Regions from separate parts of the Homo sapiens genome. Here region 1 is linked to region 2. Evidence: fine-mapped expression QTL. A gene starts in region 2. The other region holds a variant in brackets. All regions are shown on one strand. Distances are from middle to middle.

Region 1 (5,229 bases), 110 kb before region 2:
ATAAATGGTGCTGGGAAAACTGGCTAGCCATATGTAGAAAGCTGAAACTGGATCCCTTCCTTACACCTTAAACAAAAATTAATTCAAGATGGATTAAAGACTATAATGTTAGACCTAAAACCATAAAAACCCTAGAAGAAAACCTAGGCAATACCATTCAGGACATAGGCATGGGAAAGGACTTCATGTCTAAAACGCCAAAAGCAATGGCAACAAAAGCCAAAATTGACAAATGGGATCTAATTAAACTAAAGAGCTTCTGCACAGCAAAAGAAACTACCAACAGAGTGAAGAGGCAACCTACACAATGGGAGAAAATTTTCGCAATCTACTCATCTGACAAAGGGCTAATATCCAGAATCTACAATGAACTCAAACAAATTTACAAGAAAAAAACAAACAACCCCATCAACAAGTGGGCGAAGGATATGAACAGACATTTCTCAAAAGAAGACATTTATGCAGCCAAAAAACACATGAAAAAATGCTCATCATCACTGGCCATCAGAGAAATGCAAATCAAAACCACAATGAGATACCATCTCACACCAGTTAGAATGGTGATCATTAAAAAGTCAGGAAACAACAGGTGCTGGAGAGGATGTGGAGAAATAGGAACACTTTTACACTGTTGGTGGGACTGTAAACTAGTTCAATCATTGTGGAAGTCAGTGTGGCGATTCCTCAGGGATCTAGAACTAGAAATACCATCTGACCCAGCCATCCCATTACTGGGTATATACCCAAAGGATTATAAATCATGCTGCTATAAAGACACATGCACATGTATGTTTATTGCGGCACTATTCACAATAGCAAAGACTTGGAACCAACCCAAATGTCCAACAATGATAGACTGGATTAAGAAAATGTGGCACATATACCCCATGGAATACTATGCAGCCATAAAAAATGATGAGTTTATGTCGTTTGTAGGGACATGGATGAAGCTGGAAACCACCATTCTCAGCAAAATATCACAAGGACAAAAAACCAAACACCGCATGTTCTCACTCATAGGTGGGAATTGAACAATGAGAACACATGGACACAGGAAGGGGAACATCACACACCGGGGACTGTTGTGGGGTGGGGGTAGGGGGTAGGGATAGCATTAGGAGATATACCTAATGCTAAATGACGAGTTAATGGGTGCAGCACACCAACATGGCACATGTATACATATGTAACAAACCTGCACATTGTGCACATGTACCCTAAAACTTAAAGTATACTTTTTTTTAAAAAAAGGTAATTTTGAACAATTTCCACAAATGGACAGACTTGGGAATAGTGAACCCTAAGTTAGAGAAAGCCAAACAAACAATACAATTTGCTCTGCAGAATTCCTTGAAGAGTTAGGAATTTGTGGAACAGTAAAGGTGAATGTAGGGCCGAAAACAGGAATGTTGTTGAAAGTCTAAAAACACAGTAGACCCTCTCAATGCCATTTCCTGTTTCCCACAGCCATGTAAATATCGTTTATTTACCCTACAGGACACCAGGCACAGCTGAGGGTGGAAAATAAGGGGTGAAATGAACGATTAACTACCGGATCCTGAAATTCCCACTTAAAGCCATGTCGTATCTGGGCTCCCGGAACTCTGGCAGCTGGAATTTATACCTTTCTAGGAGGAGAATGGAAGATTCTGATTAGCCAGTCAATTAAAATAGTGATATTAGGACTTTGCCAAGAAACAGCCCAGCCTGACTCCCCTAGAGTAAGCAGAGAGCCAAGGACATCAGTTCTAATCTAAAGGAAAGCCTCTACTATAAAAGATACTAAAAAGGCAGAATGCAAACATAGAGACTATACTGGGAGGGGAAAATGTCAAAAAATGTTATTACTAATGTCTCCAGAATGATATCAAACCATGAAACAGAAACAGGATGATACAAAAGAGAATGAGAAGGACTTTTGGCAATTAAAACTCTCTTAGCAGAAATGAATAGCTGAGTAGAGAATTTGGAAGACAATGTTGAGAAAATTTTCTAGAGTCTCCTGAAACCTAACAAGTTTGAATAGCAGTGATATGGTTTGGCTCTGTGTTCCCACCCAAATCTCATCTCAAATTGTAATCCCCACGTGTCAAGGGAGGGAGGTGATTG[G/T]ATCATGGGGGTGGTTTCCCCCATGCTGTTCTCATGATAGTGAGTTCTCATGAGATCTGATGGTTTTATGTGTTTGGCAGTTCCTCCTTCACAGCACTTCTCTCTCCTGCCACCCTGTGAAGTAAGTGCTTGCTTCCCCTTTGCCTTCCATCATGATTGTAAGTTTCCTGAGGCCTCCCCAGCCATAAGGAACTGTGAGTCCTTTAAATCTCTTTCCTTCATAAATTACCCAGTCTTGGGTATTTCTTTATAGCAGTGTGACTAATACAGCAGTGGACTAATACAGCAAGACAAAAAGATAAAAATAAAAGGAAAAAGCTAAGAAAATTAGAGAGGATGCATACAAATGGTTCAACAGCTAAATAACAGAAATTCCAGAATGAGAAAACAGAAAACAAAACGAATAAGTCATCAAATAATTCAAGAAAATTTCTTATAATTGAAGGCAAGCATTGCTGGATATAAAGGGCCTATACAATAGAGGAAAATATACTCAAATCAATAGCCTAGAATGCTATACCCAGATAAATTATCAATTAGGTGGGAGGGTAGAATAAAGATGGTATCAAATATACCCAGTCTTAAAAAATTCAGCTCTCATCACTTGTTCTTAGGAAGCAAATGGAGGAAGGGAACCACAAAAAAGAGGAAGAAAAACCAAAGAAATAGGGAATCCAACTTGAGAGAGAAAAGAGAAATCCCCAGGATGATTAAGAAGAGACTCCAGGAAGATAGCTGTGCACCTGGCAGAGAGTCACCAACTTAAATTAGAGGAGGGTAGAAGACTCCAGGAAAGATGGCTACAAAACCAATGACATTGGCCCAGCACAGTGGCTCACAGCACTTTGGGAGGCCGAGGCCGGTGGATCACAAGGTCAGGAGATCGAGACCAGCCTGGCCAACATGGTGAAACCCCATCTCTACTAACAATACAAAAATTAGCCAGGCGTGGTGGTAAGCACCTGTAGTCCCAACTACTTGGGAGGCTGAGGCAGGAGAATTGCTTGAACTGGGGAGGCAGAGGTTGCAGTGAGCTGAGATCACGCCGTTGCACTCCAGCCTGGGTGACAGAGCAAGACTCCATCTCAGAAGAAAAAAAATGACATTGATAGCACTCCTGATATATTTTAAAATACCAGGAGGACAGTTAGATGGAGTGAGTTTGGGGATGAACTAATGACAAATACTTAGAAAACTAAAATCTTAAAAAGAAAGACAGTTGTCAATTATCAGGAGAAAATAATTTATGCAGGAAAGGAAAAAGTATTCCTAACATACTACCTGGCTAAGCTTAATAATCTAAGCACTGAATAGTGATTCAATCAAAATATAATTATATTGGGAGGATGGGGGGCACTAGGTAATCATATGAGCTTGAAGTAGGGACTGGAGAAGGGTAACAGAACTATTTATCTTCATCTTCCGTTGTGACATAACAATGAATAATTTTTACAACTGAGAAAAATCAAGAAATCACACAGATGTATATTTTAGAAATAAGAAAACTAGACAAAGGTAAACACAGATGTATATTTTAGAAATAAGAAGAAAACTAGACAAAGGTAAACACAGATGTATATTTTAGAAATAAGAAGAAAACTAGACAAAGGTAAAAAGAATATGTTTTGCTTTTGGGAAATCTAAAATTGATGGTTTTTCATAAAACGTATTCTAGAACTATTTGACTCTTTAAACTAGGTATATGTAACTTTGATAAAGAATAAGAACTAAATTTTAAAAAGCGTCATGGCTTTTCAATAAATCCTTGCATTTTTGATATTTTGGCTTCCCGGTATACTGGATTTGAGTGACCTGTGAATTTAAACTTAAACTCTGGACAAATAAAAGTTGCCTTGACTTTCTAAAAGTTCTGCTGTAGAATATTAAATAATCTATGTGCTATGGACATGAAGGGTTAAATAGCTACTTACCTATTTCTTCAGTTAACAATGAGTATCTACTTAAGGACAATATTAAAGTGCTGTTTTTATTTCAGTATCTGTCCTTAGTCTAGAAGTCAGTATCTAAATATAAATATATATAAATGTATCTGTGTCTCGTGTACAAGGCTATGTTTGATTTAAGATTTTGAGGTGGAGAAGCAATTTTTCTTTCTCTCTTCCATTTTTTTTCTGTCAATTGATCCATTCTTCTTTTAACTATGTATGGAAGGGCCATAGGGCTAGGACACTGCACAGGTTCAAGGGGGCATGGCCACATTAGACACATGTTAATGGCACCCCCCATGGGGCACAAAGCCAAGGAGAAAACGAACAGTGGGTATGAAAATGGAGAGACTTTTTACCTCTTGAGGGGAAAGTGTGAGGGTAGAAAGAACAGCCATGTGGAATAGAAATTCTATGATGGAGAGCTCAAATATAACTTCACTTCACTGCACTCATATGAAACTCTAGGCCTAATAGATTTGTGCCCCAGTGAATGGTTTCAGGTGGTTACAGATTTTCTAGACTTATGTCTCAGCAGATGTTGCGAGAGAGAAAAAAAGAAAAGAAAGAAAGAAAGAACAGCAGGAAGACATGGACCCTCTCTGCAAATGACATAATTGAATTCTAAGAAGTGGAATTAAAAGTTTTTGTTATTTCAACTTGTTAATCTTTGCTTCTTCTCTCTCCTGTCCACCTCCCTTCCCCTTTCTCCTGGAATCCAGCCCTGGCAACTCAGATAGCGATGAGGTCATGGGCTTCAAAATATGGCCATGGTATGAAGGTGGCAGCACAAATTTTTAAACAACATTTCAGCACCATGCCACATTGCCGAGAAGGAAGCCTGTGTAATGTGAGCAACTATAGCTCATGCTATTTTATTAATCCTGGGTGGTGATCCCTGGGGTTGTATTACTCGTGTGTGTCTGTTTCTCTCTGTGTGTCTGTGGGTGTCTTCTGCTGTTTTACATGACAGTCATCAGGAAGTCTTCCTCAGCTTGGACATATCAAAGGGAGGCGGGCTCTCATTTATTATTAGCAAGGTCTTTCACATTAAAAGCAAAGAAAGAGTGAAAGGAGAATGATCCTCTCAGACCCAGGAAAATGAAGGACAGGTTATCTCAGTGGGTTACAAGTGGTCTTTTTCCTTCACAAGGAAACAATGCCTCACATCTCA
Region 2 (5,229 bases):
GCCACCAGAGAACAACAGCACTCAGCCACTCTGTCCCCATATTTCAATTAGTAGGCAAGCGATTCTAAAACTGTACACTATCAGGATCGTAGAATACTTGGGCAAGACAGAGCTTCGTAGACTGCACAGTCCAATTTCTTTCTTACTTCTTTACCACCTAAGTTAAAATATTTGTCTCTCTCTCCCTACACACACACACACACACACACAGAGAGAGAGAGAGAGAGAGAGAGAGAGAGAGAGAGAAACCGATGAGACAGGAAGGGTGAGAGATTTTCCTAAGGCCAGGCTGCAAGTTAGATCAGAGCTGGAATTAGAACCCAAATCTCATACCTAGAGCCAGCCAACTGCTATTCTAGACTCAGGACAAATCTGCTTCAGTGTCATGAATTCTACATATGCTAAATTGGGCATTCATATTTTATCTGAGGTTGCCTGCTATTGACTCCTAAAGGAACCCAACAAAACCACCTTTCTGAGCCTTTAATCACTCTGCCAGTTCCAAGCTGAAAACTTAAGGCAAGTTACTTAACATCTCTGGGCTCTTTCCTCATCTAAAATTCATGGGTTGAACTGCAGACCTCGGAGGAACTTTCCAGTAATAAAAACTCTGCTTTTCATCTACTGTTTTATGGTTCATTCTTGATGTTTGCAATTTTCACTAGGTGGCAGGATTCCACCATCACATTACGAAAGGATTTACATATGATGCCTGGAAGCAAAAAGGAGTTTCAAAGAAACTTCTTTCTTCGCAAAGGACACTAAAAAAAAAAAAACGTAAAAGGCAGAGGGAAACAATAACTACAAAAAAAAAAGAGTAAAAGCCAGAGGGAAACAAACAATAACTACAAAGGCAATGGCCCATGTATTTCATAAAGATCTGTACCCATTTTTAATATAAGCATAAAATAGGAAATTAATCCCATGCTCTTGCATGTTCTTCAATACAATACTATAATTTGCAATTTGATGATAAGGTTAGGTAAAAGTTTGCTTAGTTTTGTGCATTTTAAGTTTTATTTTAGCTGAATGCCAATTAGAGAATACCAGATCCCCTTGGGCTAACCAGTAATGCAGGCAATCTAATGGCAATAAAAACTTAAAGCATTTTAAATAGTTATTAATGTGTTACAAAGTTACCTCTTAGTTACTCATAATATATTTAGATTATCTTCTAAGTTTATTTTTGAGATCTTGACCAAAAGAGTACATAAGAAGGAATACAGCATTTATTGGATTTTTGCATTTATTTGTCAAATCCTTAAAAGGGTATTCTTTTAAATAGATTTTATGACACTTCATCATACTTTTAAAATTATTGCCCAACATTGGCCTTTTCATGAATGCTGCATAATAAATGTCACTACCAACACTCTATATGAGTCCCCAAAATAGCCAAGCAAAGTCGTTATGCTGAACTGAGCGTTTCTCCTCTGCCAGAGCCAAGTGAAGTGACATCAAACAATAACTCAACTGAACATTCTAAAATTGCCTGGAAGAAACGCTCCCCAGTGTCTTGCTTGTTGTCAGAAGAACATGGTTAACTAGGCCTTTTCCTCAGCTGATAAATATGGCATTCTTCCCACCCACCCCTCATCGATTGCAAGTTAATTACATAGGATGTGGCCCATTACTCTCCAAAGTTTCTTAGAAAATAACTCACTTCCTAGAAAAATCTTAATATCCGCAGCAAAATCAAATAATACTTAGACTTCTGCATCAGAACCTGAAAACACCATCAGCAGGTTGCTTTCATTCCTTCCTTCCTAGCACAGAGCCGTGACACTTCGTTCAGGTCCTACCTTTGCAACTTGTAAGGGCTGCTTCTGCTCCTTGCCACCTTGCAATCTGAACCCCCAGGGCGCCCCTCCAGTCATGGAAATGCAGATAAAATCCCCTGTGCCCATGTTTTCCTTTTAGTTGGGCAGCATGAAGAGCTTGACGAGACAGACGAAGCTTGGGTGCGGTAGAGGATGCGCACTCAGCTTCGGGCGCCTGCCGAGGACGCAAGACTGGGTAATGCAGAGCGTCCGCCGCTGCTGCAGCCGCTGCCCCAGCCGCCGCCCCAGCCGCCTGCTGCGAATTTGTGCGGCTAATGGGCTCATTCTCAAGGAGGCAGAGGCGCTCGCAGCATCCAGGACACAGCCCACTCTTGCGTCACTCTCCTTTGCTCGGCCCACCTTCGAGGAAAGGAAAGCAGCTTCACACACAGGAGAATGTCCTCACGTGGGGCGAGATAAGGGAAAGGAGGACGGAAGGGAGAGCCAAAGTTATCTTGCACTAACAGATTAAATCCAAGCAGTTAATGGTATAAGTATGATTGAAAAACTTACATTTAATAATTCTGTAAATAGTAAAGGACACATGAAGGTTTAATCTCCACGCCATGAATGACGTCCTAAAATAGGAGCGTTGGGAATTCAACTACTAGAGGATTAGATTCTCTCAAATAAATGTTTTGAGACTTGCCACATTTATGAATGGAATAGACAAAAAAGAGTTAAAATGAGTTAAATTACTACTTTTCTGTCTGCATTCTGCTGAATTATTCCTATAAGAGGAAACAAAAGAAAGCACAAACTTTTTGTTAATAAACCTCCAGCTCTGAAAAGTACCTTTCTGAACCATATATTTAGAGAAAGGGGAAGAGAAGAGACAGAAAGGGAGAGAGAAAGAGAGAAAATGAATATGAATTTTTCTCCTGGAAACTACATTCTTATAATTACATCTATTGCATAGTTTTGGGTATGTTAAATTTTAACGTGTTTTGTTTTCTTTCTACCTGCTGATCTTCTTAAACCCAAACCCAACAGTTAGTCAACTGCATAAAATGTACAATGTCACCTACAGGTTTCTTATTTTTATAGTTTGTCATCCCATGTCATGAATCTGGGTGGTCCAATATAAAAGCAGATTTTGTATATTCCAAATATTTAAATGTTTTAAATCTGAATACAATCTGCCAAAAATGTACAAAAAGGACATTTTAATTTTCCTATAATACTTTTGTTTTCCATAACATTCATCCACATAAAAACATACTAAATAAGGAAGAGCCTGGGAAAGTTTGTTTGTGTTACTTGTGGTACCAAACAAAATTTCCAGACACGCTGCCTGTTTCAGCACTAAGAAGCACTATATACAGTAAGTCCTCACTTAAAACGTCACAGATAGGTTCATGGAAACTGTGACTTTAAAACCAATTTTACCATCGACTAATTGATAAAAACAAGGTTAAGTGACTACAGTCTATTTCTGGTCACAAAGACATCACCAAACTTTTAAATAAGATTAAAACACTTCTAATATTAAACATGGAAATAAATGTCAGCTACACATGCATTTAAGAAAGATTAATAAAAACAAGATAATCATGGACCCAATTTTTGGTGAATCAGTGAGTGAGGGCAGCTGTAGTGGTGGTGGATTCAATCAAGGAATAAATGTTTGCAAAAGGAAAATTATAAGGAGTACCTCCTGTCACAATGCAGTTCAAAACCACCACAAATATAGCAGGCTCACTGAGAAATTTCATACAGCATCATCTATTGCTGTGCATTTGTGTGATTAACATATATTTTATGAATTTTTTTTGAAAATAATTTGCATCCATACATTCATTCCTCCTCCAACCCACTTATTCCCATTCAGGATCTCCAGTGGCTTGAGCCTCTCCCTGCAGCTTAGGGCGCAAGGCAGGAATCAGCCCTGGACAGCCCTGACCATCCCATCAGAGGGTGCACACACACACACACACACACACACACACACACACACTCACTCAGATGGGGACCATTTAGACATGCCAGTTCATCTCATGAGCACAGCTTTGGGATGTGGCAGGAAACCAGAGGACCTGGAGAAAACCTATACAGACATGGGGAGAACTTTCAAACTCCATACAAACAGTGGCCCCAGCTGGAAATACATTTTTTTTTCTCATCAATGTTGTCATGAAACAATGTTGAATAAAATGGCATTATTCAAGGACCTGTGGTACAATGAACATTTTACACAGCCCATGCTCCCCAGAAGCCAAAGGCATCAAGTGATTTTATTTGTGACTCATCACTGGAGTGAGGACAATGAAATCAGAGATTGTGGCACTGGAAGAGACCCTTTGAAGGTCATGAGGGCCAGATACTCATCCCAAGTTTGATTCTTTTCAGAAACACGAATTGACTTTCCCAGTCTTTCCTTTAAACAATAGTTACAAGAGACATCATAAAATATGAGCTTTGACACTAATTACAATAGCAAAGACTTGGAACCAACCCAAATGTCCATCAGTGATAGACTGGATAAAGAAAATATGGCACATATACACCATGGAATACTATGCAGCCATAAAAAAAGAATGTGTTAATGTCCTTTGCAGGGGACATGGATGAAGCTGGAAGCCATCATTCTCAGCAAACTAGCACAGGAACAGTAAACCAAACACCACATGTTCTCACTCATAAGTGGGAGTTGAACAATGAGAACACATAGACACAGGGAGGGAAACATCACACACTGAGGCCTGTCGGAGGGTGGGGTACAAAGGGAGGGAGAGCATTACGACACATAACGCATGCGGGGCTTAAAACCTAGATGACGGGTTGATAGGTGCAGCAAACAACCATGGCACATGTATACCTATGTAACAAACCTGCATGTTCTGCACATGTATCCCAGAACTTAAAGTAAAAATTTTTAAAAAATGAGCTCTGAGAACAAAGAAAAAAAACACTTTCATATTTGTTCTTTTTACTTTTTCATGTCCCTTCTGCTCCTCAATCCACTCAAGTCTAGCTTCAAATTAGTGATGGTGTCCTCCTTAAATCATTTCTCCCTTAGGCTTCTTGGGCCCAGCAAGCTCTAGGCTTTCTTCTTGCCTCTGTAGCCACTCTTATCAAAGATTTATTCTGTGCAGGAACTTGAAATATAATGTTGTATTTATTTTCAAAGCAACCATGCTAGATAGGTATTAGTGTTTCTCTTTTACTGATAATTAACAGTGCTTTAAATCCTAAGCGATAGAGCCAGGGTTTGAACTTTTGTCTGCCCGAATTTGTCTGCCCTAATACCTATTCTTAATCATTGCTATTCTGCCTCCAGGTCTTATGTATTCCCTGATGCTTATCTCATGCAACCAATTATCCATTAAGACCTATGGATCTGGCTATGCGCAGTGCTGCATGCCTGTAATCCCAGCATTTGGGGAAGACAAGGTGGGCAAGGTGGGTG

Evidence for each region. PIP is the estimated chance that this variant, and not a neighbour inherited with it, causes the effect.
Region 1: its variant is the best candidate, but not a certain one, in a credible set for the expression of SYNPO2 in monocytes after LPS (Quach 2016, PIP 0.54).

Annotation. Positions count from the first base shown.
Region 1 is chr4:119,000,246-119,005,474 of GRCh38, reverse strand. The region is part of intron 1 of SYNPO2 (synaptopodin 2); the gene reads right to left. Among named protein-coding and RNA genes, the nearest start is that of SYNPO2-AS1, 18 kb to the right of the region's middle. The variant G/T (reference allele first, on the strand shown) is at 2,110.
Region 2 is chr4:118,885,715-118,890,943 of GRCh38, reverse strand. SYNPO2 (synaptopodin 2) reads right to left here and starts at 2,090. Exons shown (of 5, transcript NM_133477.3): 1 at 1,803-2,090. The coding sequence starts at 1,907.